Linked DNA regions of Homo sapiens: region 2 is linked to region 1. A link means that fine-mapping ties the variant in region 1 to the plasma level of a protein whose gene starts in the linked region. Region 1 holds a variant in brackets. A gene starts in the other region. All regions are shown on their reverse strands. Region 1 overlaps MASP1 (MBL associated serine protease 1). Region 2 holds the start of CFD (complement factor D).

The links. A credible set is the group of variants that fine-mapping cannot tell apart. PIP is the chance, under the fine-mapping model, that this variant and not a neighbour inherited with it causes the effect. The UK Biobank Pharma Proteomics Project read protein levels with antibody pairs (Olink). The fine-mapping took linkage between variants from a reference panel, not from the people measured, so its PIPs are less certain.
Region 2: it holds the start of CFD, and the variant in region 1 is the best candidate, but not a certain one, in a credible set for the plasma level of the CFD protein (UK Biobank, PIP 0.53).

Annotation. Positions count from the first base shown.
Region 1 is chr3:187,275,306-187,283,305 of GRCh38, reverse strand. All of the region lies in intron 2 of MASP1 (MBL associated serine protease 1), which reads left to right. Among named protein-coding and RNA genes, the nearest start is that of MASP1, 12 kb to the left of the region's middle. The variant G/A (reference allele first, on the strand shown) is at 3,446.
Region 2 is chr19:856,348-860,563 of GRCh38, reverse strand. It overlaps CFD (complement factor D), which reads right to left and starts at 900. Exons shown (of 5, transcript NM_001928.4): 1 at 820-900. The coding sequence starts at 874.

The DNA.
Region 1 (8,000 bases):
ATAATATAATCTGAAGACCTCTTCTAACACTGAATTAAAGACACTGGAATAGATTTCTATCCAAAGCTTGACTTTCTTGGCTAGAGAATATTTTGGAAATTGGTTGATGGTTTCTATCTAGAGTGGTGAGACTCCTTCCTGAAACCACAAGTAGATGGACATGGGCCCTCTGGAAGGGGCAGCATGGTCCTGGGCCCTTACATGGAATTCAGGAAATGCCTTTTCTGGTCTCAGATCTGTCACTAACTCCCCAAATGACATGGAGTGGAGAAGAATATTATTTTACAGCACCCTCTCTGCTCCAAAATTAGACAGATGACCTCTGGGCATAACAGAGAAGTAGTCTACTTGAGGCAACTTAGGGACTGAGCTGCCTACCTGAAGTGCCCTACAGTCCTTGCATCTGTGAGTTGGGACAATTTTCCAGTTCCTTTCAAAGAAGAGATTAACATGGTGGCGGCGGGAGGTGAGATAGACTTCTCCACTTGTGCTTGCACAGCTGACTCTCTTCCAGAAGGCCACCCTAATGTCAGCATTAGCCTTCTGCAGAGGTTCCAACAGCCGTGGGGCACCAGCAGGCCTCCCCTCTGCAGGATGCTGCATGCTAGTTGGCTGACTACTGGTGCTCATGTGGAAACCACCCTGTGCCCCTGCCTACACACACCCAGTGAGTTGCCCTCCTAGAGCTGAGAACTCACAGAATGTCAGGCTGCAGGGGCCCTCTGGGGACGCATCTCATCTTAAGTTGTGGTTTTCAAATATATTCTCCCCAGTACACGTTTTCTTCTTCTTCTTTTTTTTTTTTTTTTTGAAACGGAATCTTGCTCTGTTGCCAGGCTGGAGTGCAGTGGCGGGATCTCGGCTCAGTGCAAACTCCACCTCCCGGGTTCAAGTGATTCCCCTGCCTCAGCCTCCTGAGCAGCTGGGACGACAGGCACATGCCACCATGCCTGACTAATTTTTTGTATTTTAGCAGAGACGGGGTTTCACCATGTTGGCCAGGATGGTCTTGACCTCCTGACCTCGTGATCCTCCCACCTCGGCCTCCCAAAGTGGGTTACAGACGTGAGCCACTGCACCCGGCCCACATTTTCTTCTTGAAAATCTTCAGTTAGGCCCAACGTAGAGAAGAGACAGAAGTGAGCTGCTCTAGCTGAAGGTGGTTTTGCTTGCTCATCCTTCTTGGTTACCCTGAAGCACCTTGAGGGATTATGGCTTGAATCTTGCTGCTCTGGCCACATTCCTATTGGACAGAAGAGGAGGTCAGAGTTCAGAGAGTGGGTGAGCAGTCTGCCTCTGAAATCCCAAACCCAGAAGTCTTACACACTGAGTTGAAACCCACTGACTTTTTCTAATCGCCTGGCCAATGCTAGCCCCTAGCATATATGCTTTTTCTGGCTATAAATGGAAGAGAAGCTTTTCCCTTTCCATCTGAATAAAAGCGCAAATATGCCATGTGGCCCCCAGGTAAATCCACATCCCTCTCCAAAATTCTGTTTTTTCCTCTGTTCAGTGAGAGGATGGAACAAGATGATCCCCATGGTCCTTTCAATTCTGGAATTGTAATCCCAATCCTCCTCACCAGAACTTCCAAGATGACCCCACCAAACACTCCTTATCATAGTCAGGATAACACCAGAAAACAGAAATCGTATGTTTACAGCAGCTGCTTCTCAATGTTGCATAACTGCAAGCACTCCAGTAGGAGCCTGCAGCCTGCTGGGGATGCCTTGGTGGTATGTCATCACAGAACTTGTAAACATATCATGCCAACACTGTTCTTTACCAAGAAACTTAAAATATCACTGACTTGCCTTTGACAGGATAAAATTCCCTGTTTTGAGGCATTTTTCCTCTATGACTAAATTCTCCTCACAGGCCTACATAGGAGTAGGTTTAAGAAACCTTCCAACTCACAGGAACATTTTCCAGCCCAGCCCAACCCCGCAAGCTGCCCTTCCCACCCAGGCCCATAGGGGCGATGATGATGGAACTGCTCATACTGCTCATCAGTAGCCTGAAGAAGAGCAGGACTCCCAAGTCTGTGGTCCGGATGCTCACATTTATGAAAATTCCTCTCCTGCCTGATTTCCCACAGTTCTTGGTCTTCAAGACTCATGCACATCTGCACAGCAGCATCTGCTTCCTTGGCATGTGGCTGCAATGTTTAGATTCCTGTAGTGTACGGATGAGGCATACGAATCAAGGCTGGTTAATGCTGCAGGCAAGAGGCAAAGCACAGATACTAGTCAGGGAGTCAGGCAGCCTGGGTCCTGGGTGTCATTCTATACTCATTAACCTTGGGCAGATGACTGCACCTAAAATGGACTCTGTTTCCTCCTCTTTCAAATACAAACGGTTAAACCAGATGGTCTCTAAGGTCTACTTTGCCTTGATGTTCTGTGCATCTAAGACCTTAGAAATCATGATCCAACCCCATGATCAACATGTCCAAAGTCCAGGGAAGGGCAGTTGATTGGCCAACATCATGCTTGTATTAGAATTTACATCTTAAGATTCTCAGTCTTTTCTTCTATTTATTTAACAGAATTATTTAACAGATTAAAAAACAGCAAAGTCCCATCTTGTGAATGACTAGTTTTTATGTTGTAACATAAGACAAATATTGTCTCTAGTCAAACTTACCATTAAAAAATCCCTTAAATATTGCAAAGCATTATCTTTTAGATGCCCAGAAAAGAATTTTTTTCCAAAAATGCAAGAAATTAAAGTTCCTTTGGTTGAGCACCAGATGAAGTGGTCCATTTATACTTACAAAGAAACTATGAAGCTATAGTTATGGAGAGAGTCTAGATAGTTAGAAACCAGAACCAACAAGAGAACAGCAGATTACACGTTCCAATTTCAAGTTCATTTCATGGCATCTATTCACTGTAAAAGGAAGCATAAATCATCTGCATTTGGATTGCACTCTCTTTCTTTCTTTCTCTTTATGTCACCATGTGTAATATTTTAATAGCATCTGTGACATGTTTATGTAATGCAATGCCACTGTTCTCCTTTTAACCCTATATCCTTGATGTATTCGACATTTCTTCCATCCTCTCCACTGCTAATTCCTTAGTTCCAATTCTTATTCCTCTCAACTAGTCTATTGTAATAGCCTTCTATATGTCTACCAGATGTCAGCCTCTCCCCATCTAGCCTACCTTCTATGAGTATCCAGAAGGATCTTCTTGGAACATAGCTTTGATTATGCTACTCTAAAAATCTTTCAATGCCTCCCCATTGTCTATGGAATGAAGCACAGTAATCCTATTGAAAATCTACCATAAGCTGGACACTATGCCAAAGACTGGGTCTGCAAAGATCAGTAAAAAGAATTCTTCGAAGTAAAATGAACTATAAAGTCCTCAAGGAATTCACGGTTCCATAGAATATAATGAAATAAGTGCATAATAAAGCCAGACAAAGTAACACAAGG[G/A]TTATCAGTCAGTATATAAGTTTGGGAGTGGTCATTTTTAGATGGCCAGGGAGGGCTTTGGAAATAGTTGATGTTTGAGATTAGTCTTTAGAGGTAAATAATAATTTGGCAGTGCAGTTCTCTAAGTAGGATTTCTTAGCAGAGCTACCATCAAAGCAGGGAGGTTGAAGAGGATGGGAATGATGCAAAACTGAGAATAATCAGAGTTGGCATGTTTTGGGGAGACGTAAAGCCCAGAAAGGTTATCTGAGGGTCAACTGAGAAATGTTTGGTAAATTTGGGTTTAAGCATGTGCTCCCCAAATCACATACGTGTGGTCAAAGGTTGAATTAATTTCACAGATGGATTTTGTTGGCCAGCCTAATATTAACTTATACTATGATTTGGGGGTGTAAAAAAAAGAAAGAATTATGACAACATAAAATTTCCGATCTCACACAACAATCTGCATTTCCAAGTTCTCTTAGAATATTAGAAAATCTGGCAACTCTTGCAGCTTCCTGCCTTCAACAATCAGCCAACACCAGGAAGAGGTGGCCTTGTGGGTAGGGTCCCCACCATTCTCTATAGCTCCCCCATGCTAATGCTTTCTGGCCTCTTAATGGCACCATTGCTGATTTTACAGTAAAGAAAGTGAATCATTTTTCCCCAGTGTCTCTATCAAAAGTAGAAAAGTTGAAAGTTCTTGAGAAAGACACGTATTTCAGGAAAAATTTCTTTGCAGAGTGAAGAATATCCCTCTGTATTTAACACGCAAAGTGTATATTTCTGTCTAAAGAATTCATAGCAGCTTGTTTCACTCATTTATGTTTTCTGCCTGGCATCTTTTAGCATTTTAGTCTAGGACGTCCAATTAGAAGCTGTGATGTGGCGGAGGGGTGGGGCAGTGGGGTTCGGGGATGTGACACAGTCGAGGGTATGCTTGAGGAAGGTTAATCTGGAGCTACATGAGGGATGTCAAGGACTAGTAAAGTCAAAATAAACTGGAGCTGCTGAATGAGGCCATTTAGGTGGCTGTGCTAAATAGATTGGATATGACTATGTGGAGCGTAGTATACTTCAAGAAAGCCCACAGGCCTCCTGGACAGCTATGGAAGAGCAGGTAGGATGTGCAGAGGTAAACTCCACAGGAACTGGCTGCGTATGGGAGAGGAAAAAGGAGGAATCAGAGGCTTTAAGCCCCAGTTATGACAACTTATTGGCTACTTACCCAGAAATTGAGATCAGGAACGTGAAGATGTGTAGATTTAGAAAGATATAGAGTGCACTGAAGTGCATTGAGTTTTGAATACAGCTGGAAATGCTGGTCTAAATTTTGAGACAGAGCTTAAAGAGTCGTAAGAGTGGGTGTAGAAAGAGCACAGAGACAGTGATGGAGAGAGGATTAACACAGTGAGGATTAAATTCTGTCTCTGCCACCATCTGAGTGAGGAACCTTGGTGAAGCTCCTTGATCTCCCTCAGCAATGGTTTTGTCATCAGTTGAAAGGAAGAGTTCCTAATGAATACAACGTCTTCCTCACAGGTTGTGGGAGGATTTGAATGACATGAGGGTCTAAGTGGAATCAGTACTGCAAAACGCAGTTGTGCTCAGTGGTTGGGAGCTCAAACTTTGGAGTCATTCAGACCCAGCGTCAAGTCTTGCCTCCACTTCTTACTGGAGCAGTTGCTTAACCTTGCTAAGATTTTCTTCTCCATCTGTAAAATGGAGATAATAATGATGCTTATTTCATAGACTTACTGTGAATGCCAAATGAAGTAAATGCTTTAATGTCATATGTCCAACACATCTCTAATTAGCTCAAAAGTACTATTATAGTGGTAATGAAGGCAATGGTATGAGTAATAAAGTGTCTGCCTGGTATCACCAGATGTTCAATGAATGTCAGTTTTCTTATCAACTCTGACCCTACCACTGACTGCCTATGTATGACCTTGCTAATGTTACTGAGTTTTTTCTAGCAATTTATGGAAAAGTGCTTCCAAAGCACTATTCGAAAGCAGGAGGTTATTTATTTCTCCTTTGTATTTACCTTGTAGAAACACACATTTTACAGCAGTTTCTAATCTATTAACTCATTTGATTCCCATGGAATAGGAAGAGCACGGATTATTGCACCTAATTTACAAAAAAGGAAACAGGTACAAGTGAATTTGTTCAAGTCTCTGCAGGAAAGCCAGGCTTGAATCCCTGCTCTTCTAACTCCCCAAGTCATGGTTCTGTGTCTCCATGCAGCCTTCCTCAGAACAGGCTTTACTGTGGAAGGGGTCCTGTTGTGTTTCCTGGCCATGCATTATTCCTGAAACAATACTCTATTTGTCAAGATGATTTCATAAAATTTAGTAAAACAGAAGGTCCTTGAGGGTCCCTATATTGTCTAGATTATTTTAAATAACGTTCTCTTTTATCCTTTGAGAGAAAAAAATGTTTTTTAAAAATAATAGAAAATGGAGTCTGAACTACAGTGAATCTGCAAGTGCTTGTATCATCTGCTTGTAGTACATCCTTTCTGATGAGCTCAAGCTCATTCCCACTAGATTGCCAGCCCCATGAGTTCAGGGCCTATGTCTGTGTTTTCTCCAGTAGAAAGCACAGTCCTGGGCAGAACAGGAAAAGGCACATGTCTCCTGGCAGTGGAAAGGGCTCTGGCCTAGAAAACAGCTGCTGACTCCTGCTGAGAGCTTGGGCAAGTCACGTCTTCATTCAAGGCCTCAGTTTCCCCATCTGCCTGATGAGGGAACTGGACCAGCTGGCCTCTCCAAACCCTTCCAGTTCTGATGGTCTGTGACTCCCAGTCCAATGCCCCTTCCCTCAGGCCACATTGGGTCAGTCTGCATCCTGCTGTGTAATTGAGAGGTAAGTCGCTCCCAAGTGGGACTCTTCTGACCCCTAAGCTCCTAATTTCTGTGCAATGCTCTGTGTTTACTTAGAACATGCCCTCGACCTTCCGGCTGAACTCATTTCACCTACTGCATAACTCTGCTCATTCTCTGGGAGTGGACAGGAGGCCTTGGCCCCAGAAGGAAATGAGAAATGGGTAAACATTTCTCATGAATTTCAATTGTAGTCTCCGGTGGAATTCTCCCACTCCAGAGACACCAGGACCCAAACACCAATTCTAGCTTATTCAGAAGAATTAGAAAATGAAAATGAGCTTGCTTCAGGAAAGTGTAATGAAAGCTCATTTTATGCCAAAAGTGCAAACAGCACAGGCTTCAGGGTGATGGAAAACAAAAGGAAGCTCGCAGTGCTGAGGAAGAGCATGTGGGTGAGTGTGAGCTGGGAAGGTCCCAGGTGTGGGTGCACATGGGGTGCATATCTCTGTGCTTGAGTATATTACAGGTTGCTGTTGAAAACACCTTGGTGAAGAGCAGTGCCTGACTTTACTTCGATGTGCTTATAAAGGGAAAAGTTAAGGGACGAAGAGGTATTCATTTATTCAACAAATATTCATCCAGTGCCTACAATTTATTAGAGCTTAGGGTACAGCAGTAATTAGAACAGATAGAAATCTCTGAAGTGAGGCTTACATTGCACTGGGATAAACAGACAATAAACACTAAACATAATACATAACTAAATTATGTACTAAGTAATAAGTTTATGGACAAAAATAAAATAGAGCAGGGCTCTGCATGAGTTGAGATGGGGGCTCTGATTTAAATATGGTGCTCATTGAGAGAGTGACATTTGAGCAAACACTTGAAGCAGGTAAGGTTAGCCATGTGGCTTTCTTGTTGGGGGGGCTACCCTGGGGGGCACTTTAACCAGAGGGAACATTCAGTGCCCTCAGGTGGAAAGTGCCTGGTGTGTTTGAAGAATAGCAAGGATGGCAGTGTGGCTGGAGGGCAGGAACATGAATGAAGACTGAGAGGTACAGATGGGGGGCGGGATGGGAGACTGGAAAACAGGGTTCCTGTTAAATGCTGCCAGCCAATGGCAGGCTTTACAAGCTGCTTTCATGCCCCGAATCTCATTTGACCTGATGCTCAGAGTATTAATGTCCACTTTTTACGTTTGTGAAAACTGTGCCCTGGAGACAGGGGCATGGGTGCTAACAACCAGATTGGGGGGTGGGGGCAGGGAATGGGGGCAAAGAGATGCGCAGTGGCTTATCATTCGACATTCAGATAGCACAGACACAGAGAGCCCGCAGAGCATAGAGCATAGAACAATCACATAATTAGGAAGTAATGAGTTTTCACAGAACTGGTTTTCATAGAACTGGTTTCTAATAGAATGTACTTAATTTTAAGTTTATGAAACTTGATGATGGCTGGATTTAACAACAGGGTAGCAAAATCTCTGAAAAGCTGACAGTTGGCTCTTATAAACTGGTGTGAGCTGCCGGCTCCAGCACACCTACCGCCTGGGGAGGTTTAAGTGACCCCTGAGGTATGAGTGGCAGAGCTATGACAGTTGGTCCTTATTCCAGCACTCTTGTAGGATTTCTGTGCAAAGATTTGAGGATATAAGTTTAGCCTGAGTCAGGGCAAGGTCCTGGGCAGTGTCACAGGAACACAGCAGCTCACAATCCTTGAAACTCTGCTGGAAG
Region 2 (4,216 bases), not on the chromosome of region 1:
GGCTGCCTGACGGGATCCCAGCTCTCACCCCCCAGGCCGCTCCCCGCAAGAATCCCATCTCTGGGCGCGGTGGCTCACGCCTGTAATCCCAGCACTTTGTGAAGCCGCGCGGGGGCGGGGGGGGAGGGGGGGGTGCAGATCATGAGGTCAGGAGTTCAAGACCAGCCTGGCCAATATGGTGAAACCCCGTCTCTACTTTAAAAAAAAATACAAAATTTAGTCGGCGTGGCCTATAATCTCAGCTATTCGGAAGGCTGAGGCAGGAGAATCGCTTGAACCCGGGAGTCGGAGTTTGCAGTGAGCCGAGATCGCACCACTGCACTCCAGCCTGGACGACAGAGCGAGACTCCCTATCAAAAAAAAAAAGAAAGAAAAAAAAGAATCCCGTTTCCGTCTTGGGGCCCCTCAGCGTTGCAAACTCAGATACCCTCGGGCGGGAATGCCCCAGAGTACAGAACCCACAGTGGGCTGGGGACCGGGGGCAGATCCCAGCGCCCTACCCTGGGCGCAGTGCCTTCCAGTTGGACATAAGAGAAATGGGGCTGACCCAGCCAGTGCCTGGGCCAGCCCAGTCAGCCACGCAGATGAAGTTTTCCACGCAGACGTTCAGACTCTGTCTGCAAGAAAAGCTGACTCCAGAAAGTTCCGATTTCCAATCTGAATTTTCTAGAATTTTTCAGCGTTCAGAGCCTTCCATTAGTGAGGAGAGACACCCCCTTCCTGCCCACCTGGAGGGGCTGGAGGACCGTCCGTGTGACGGAAGGGAGCACCACGCCCCTACACAGCCCTGTCCCTCACCCCAGGCCCAGGCCTCCTCACCGCAGGCGGCCGCTCCTAGGAGGACCAGAACTGCCAGGCGCTCCCAGCTGTGCATGGTGAAGCCGCTGTGGCTGAGACACTGACCCAGGCAGGGCCCTGGGGGTGCTTTTATGAGGGTGGAGGGGGCGGGCCGCTCCCCGGGTGGGCAGCGGCCCAGCTGGGGAAAGGGGAACTCGCCCGCCCAGCCTCCGCCCTCCCCGGGACTGGGTTACCTCCTGCCAGACTCACACCAGAGTCGACAAGTCGCTGGGAGACCCTCGGGCCTCTGTGAGCCTGACAGCCTGCTGGCCCTGGTGGGGGGCAGTCCCTCAGATGGGCAGGAGGCAGAGAGGGGGGCTGCACCCACCCCGGCCCCAACTTCACCACACCCAGAGTCCCCCAGGGTGTTTCACAATCCTAGCTGGAGGCCACAGCGTGTAAACAACCCACTTTCTTGTCCTGCTACCCTCCCTTCTTTTCCTCCTCTATATTAGAGAGAAGGTCTGTTGGGGGTAGGAAGGTCACTTGACACCTTTGTCTCTGTCCCTGTGGCCTCTGGGGCTTGACACCCTGACGAATAGAAAGTTGGAAAGGCCAAGGCAGAGGCAGCTGGGAAGACTGGCTACAAGGGACAGGAAAACCCAGACAAACTGGGTGGAGCCTGAATCATGAAAGTTATATGGAAAGTTCAGGGATGTCCGCCTTCAGGTGTGGCTTGATCCAGGTGCCTGAACAATGTCCAGTGTCTGCTTCTGGCTTCTCCTTTCTTCTCTGATGGCTTCTTTCCTCACCAGCCTCCCCTGGTGTGTTTCCAGGGACCCCACACTCAACCCAGTGGCTCAGTGGGCCCCTCCTAAAATTCTTCCTCACTCCAGCCAAGTCTCAAGGGTGCCTTGGGTTGGTGGAGCCTGGATCACACGCCCCCTCCCAAACTGTTCACTGAGGGCAGGTTCTGATGAACAGAGTCAGGGCTGGCCGGGCACAGTGGCTCCCACCTACCATCCCGGCACATTGAGAGACCCAGATAGGAGCATCTCTTGAGCCCAGGAATTCAAGGCCAGCTTGGGGAAGACGGCGAGACCCCATCTCTACAAAAAAATTAAAATAAAATACTTCTCAGAATCTGGGCCATAGGGCCTTTTGTGAGGTGGGGATTTGTGTGTGTTGTTTTTGTTTTATTACAGACAGGGTCTTGCTCTTTCATCCAGGCTCGAGTGCAGCGGTGCAATCATAGCTCACTGCAGCCTCCTCGACCTCCGGGGCTCAAGTGATCCTCCCACCTCAGCCTCCAGAAGTGCTGGGACTGCAGGCCTGCTCATGGTGTAGCTCCATTTTTCACATCTGCCCCACAGGGGCCAGCGGGATTCACGTTGCATTAATCCATGGTGCGGGGACCAGAAGGATGGGGATACCTTGTGGGGAGGACCTCAGACATTGTCCCCAGGGGGAGCAGCACACGAGGTTCCCCCGGCTTTTCTCTTCACCATGGATCATTTCTTTCTTTTCTTTCCTTTTTTTTTTTTTTTTTGAGACGGAGTCTCGCTCTGTCGCCCAGGCTGGAGTGCAGTGGCGCGATCTCAGCTCACTGCAAGCTCCGCCTCCCGGGTTCACACCATTCTCCTGCCTCAGCCTCCGGAGTAGCTGGGACTACAGGCGTCCGCCACCACGCCCGGATAATTTTTTGTATTTTTAGTAGAGATGGGTTTCACCGTGTTAGCCAGGATGGTCTCGATCTCCCGACCTCGTGATCCGCCTGCCTCGGCCTCCCAAAGTGCTGAGATTACAGGTGTGAGCCACCACGCCTAGCCTCATTTCCTTCCTTCCTTTCTCTGTTTTTCTCTTTCTTTCCCTTTCTTTTTCTTTCTTTCTTTCTCTTTCCTTCTTTTTTTCTTTCTTTCTTGCTTTTTTTTTTTTTTTGCGACAGAGTCTTGCTCTGTCGTCCAGGCTGGAGTGCAGTGGCACAATCTCGGCTCACTGCGACCTCCACCTCCCGGGTTCAAGCGATTCTACTGCCTCAGCTTCCCGAGTAGCTGGGATTACACGCATGAGCAACCACACTGGGCTAACTTTTTGTATTTTTAGTAGAGACAGGGTTTTGCCATGTTGGCCAGGCTGGTCTCGAACCTCTGACCTCAGGTGATCCGCCCACCTCGGCCTCCCAAAGTGCTGGGATTACAGGCATGAGCCACCATGCCTGGCCCCCTGTGGATTATTTCATACGCACAGAGAATAGAAAATGATATAACAACAGGGCTGGGCGTGGTGGCTACGCCTGTAATCCCAGCACTTTGGGAGGTCAAGGCGGGCGGATCACGAGTTCAGGAGATCGAGACCATCCTGGCTAACACGGTGAAACCCCGTCTCTACTAAAAATACAAAAAATGAGCCGGGCGTGGTGGCGGGCGCCTGTAGTCCCAGCTACTCGGGAGGCTGAGGCAGGAGAATGGCGTGAACCCGGGAGGCGGAGCTTGCAGTGAGCCGAGATCGCGCCACTGCACTCCAGCCTGGGCGACAGAGCGAGACTCCATCTAAAAACAAAAAAGAAAAAAACACAATGTGGGGAAGTCACTTCTGCTCCATTGCCCTGGCTGTGCTGCCCCCTGGTGGTGGCTTACTCCAGAGATGCCCAAGAGACTCTGGATTCTAGTTTGTTGTTTATTATTATTATTATCATTATTATTTATATTTATTTATTTATTTATTTATTTATTTATTTATTTATTTATTTATTTTTGAGATGGAGTTTCGCTCTTGTTGCCCAGGCTGGAGTGCAATGGAGCGATCTTGGCTCACTGCAACCTCCACCTTCCAGAATTCAGGTGATTCTCCTGCCTCAGGCTTCCCGAGTAGCTGGGATTACAGGCATGCACCACCACGCCCGGCTAATTTTGTATTTTTAGTAGATATGGGGTTTCTCCATGTTGGTCAGGCTGGTCTCGAACTTTAGACCTCAGATGATCCGCCTGCCTGGGCCTCCCAAAGAGCTGGGATTACAGGCACGAGCCACCGCACCGGTATTTTTTTTTTTTTTTTTTTTTTTTGAGACGGAGTCTCTCTGTGTTGCCCAGGCTGGAGTGCAGTGGCGTAATCTCGGCTCACTACAGCCTTCGCCTCGCAGGTTCAAGCGATTCTCCTGCCTCAGCCTCCCACGCGCCACGACGCCAAGCTAATTTTTTTTGTATTTATAGTAGAGATGGGGTTTCACCACGTTGGCAGACTAGTCTTGAACTCCCGACCTCAGGTGATCTGCCAGCCTCGGCCTCCCAAAGTGCTGGGATTGCAGGCGTAAGCCACTGGGCCAGGCTTGGACCATTTTATTTTATTTTATTTTATTTATTTATTTTTTTTTAATGGAGCGGGGGTTTTGCCATGTTGCCCAGGCTGGTCTTGAACTCCTGAGCTCAAGTGATCCGCCTGC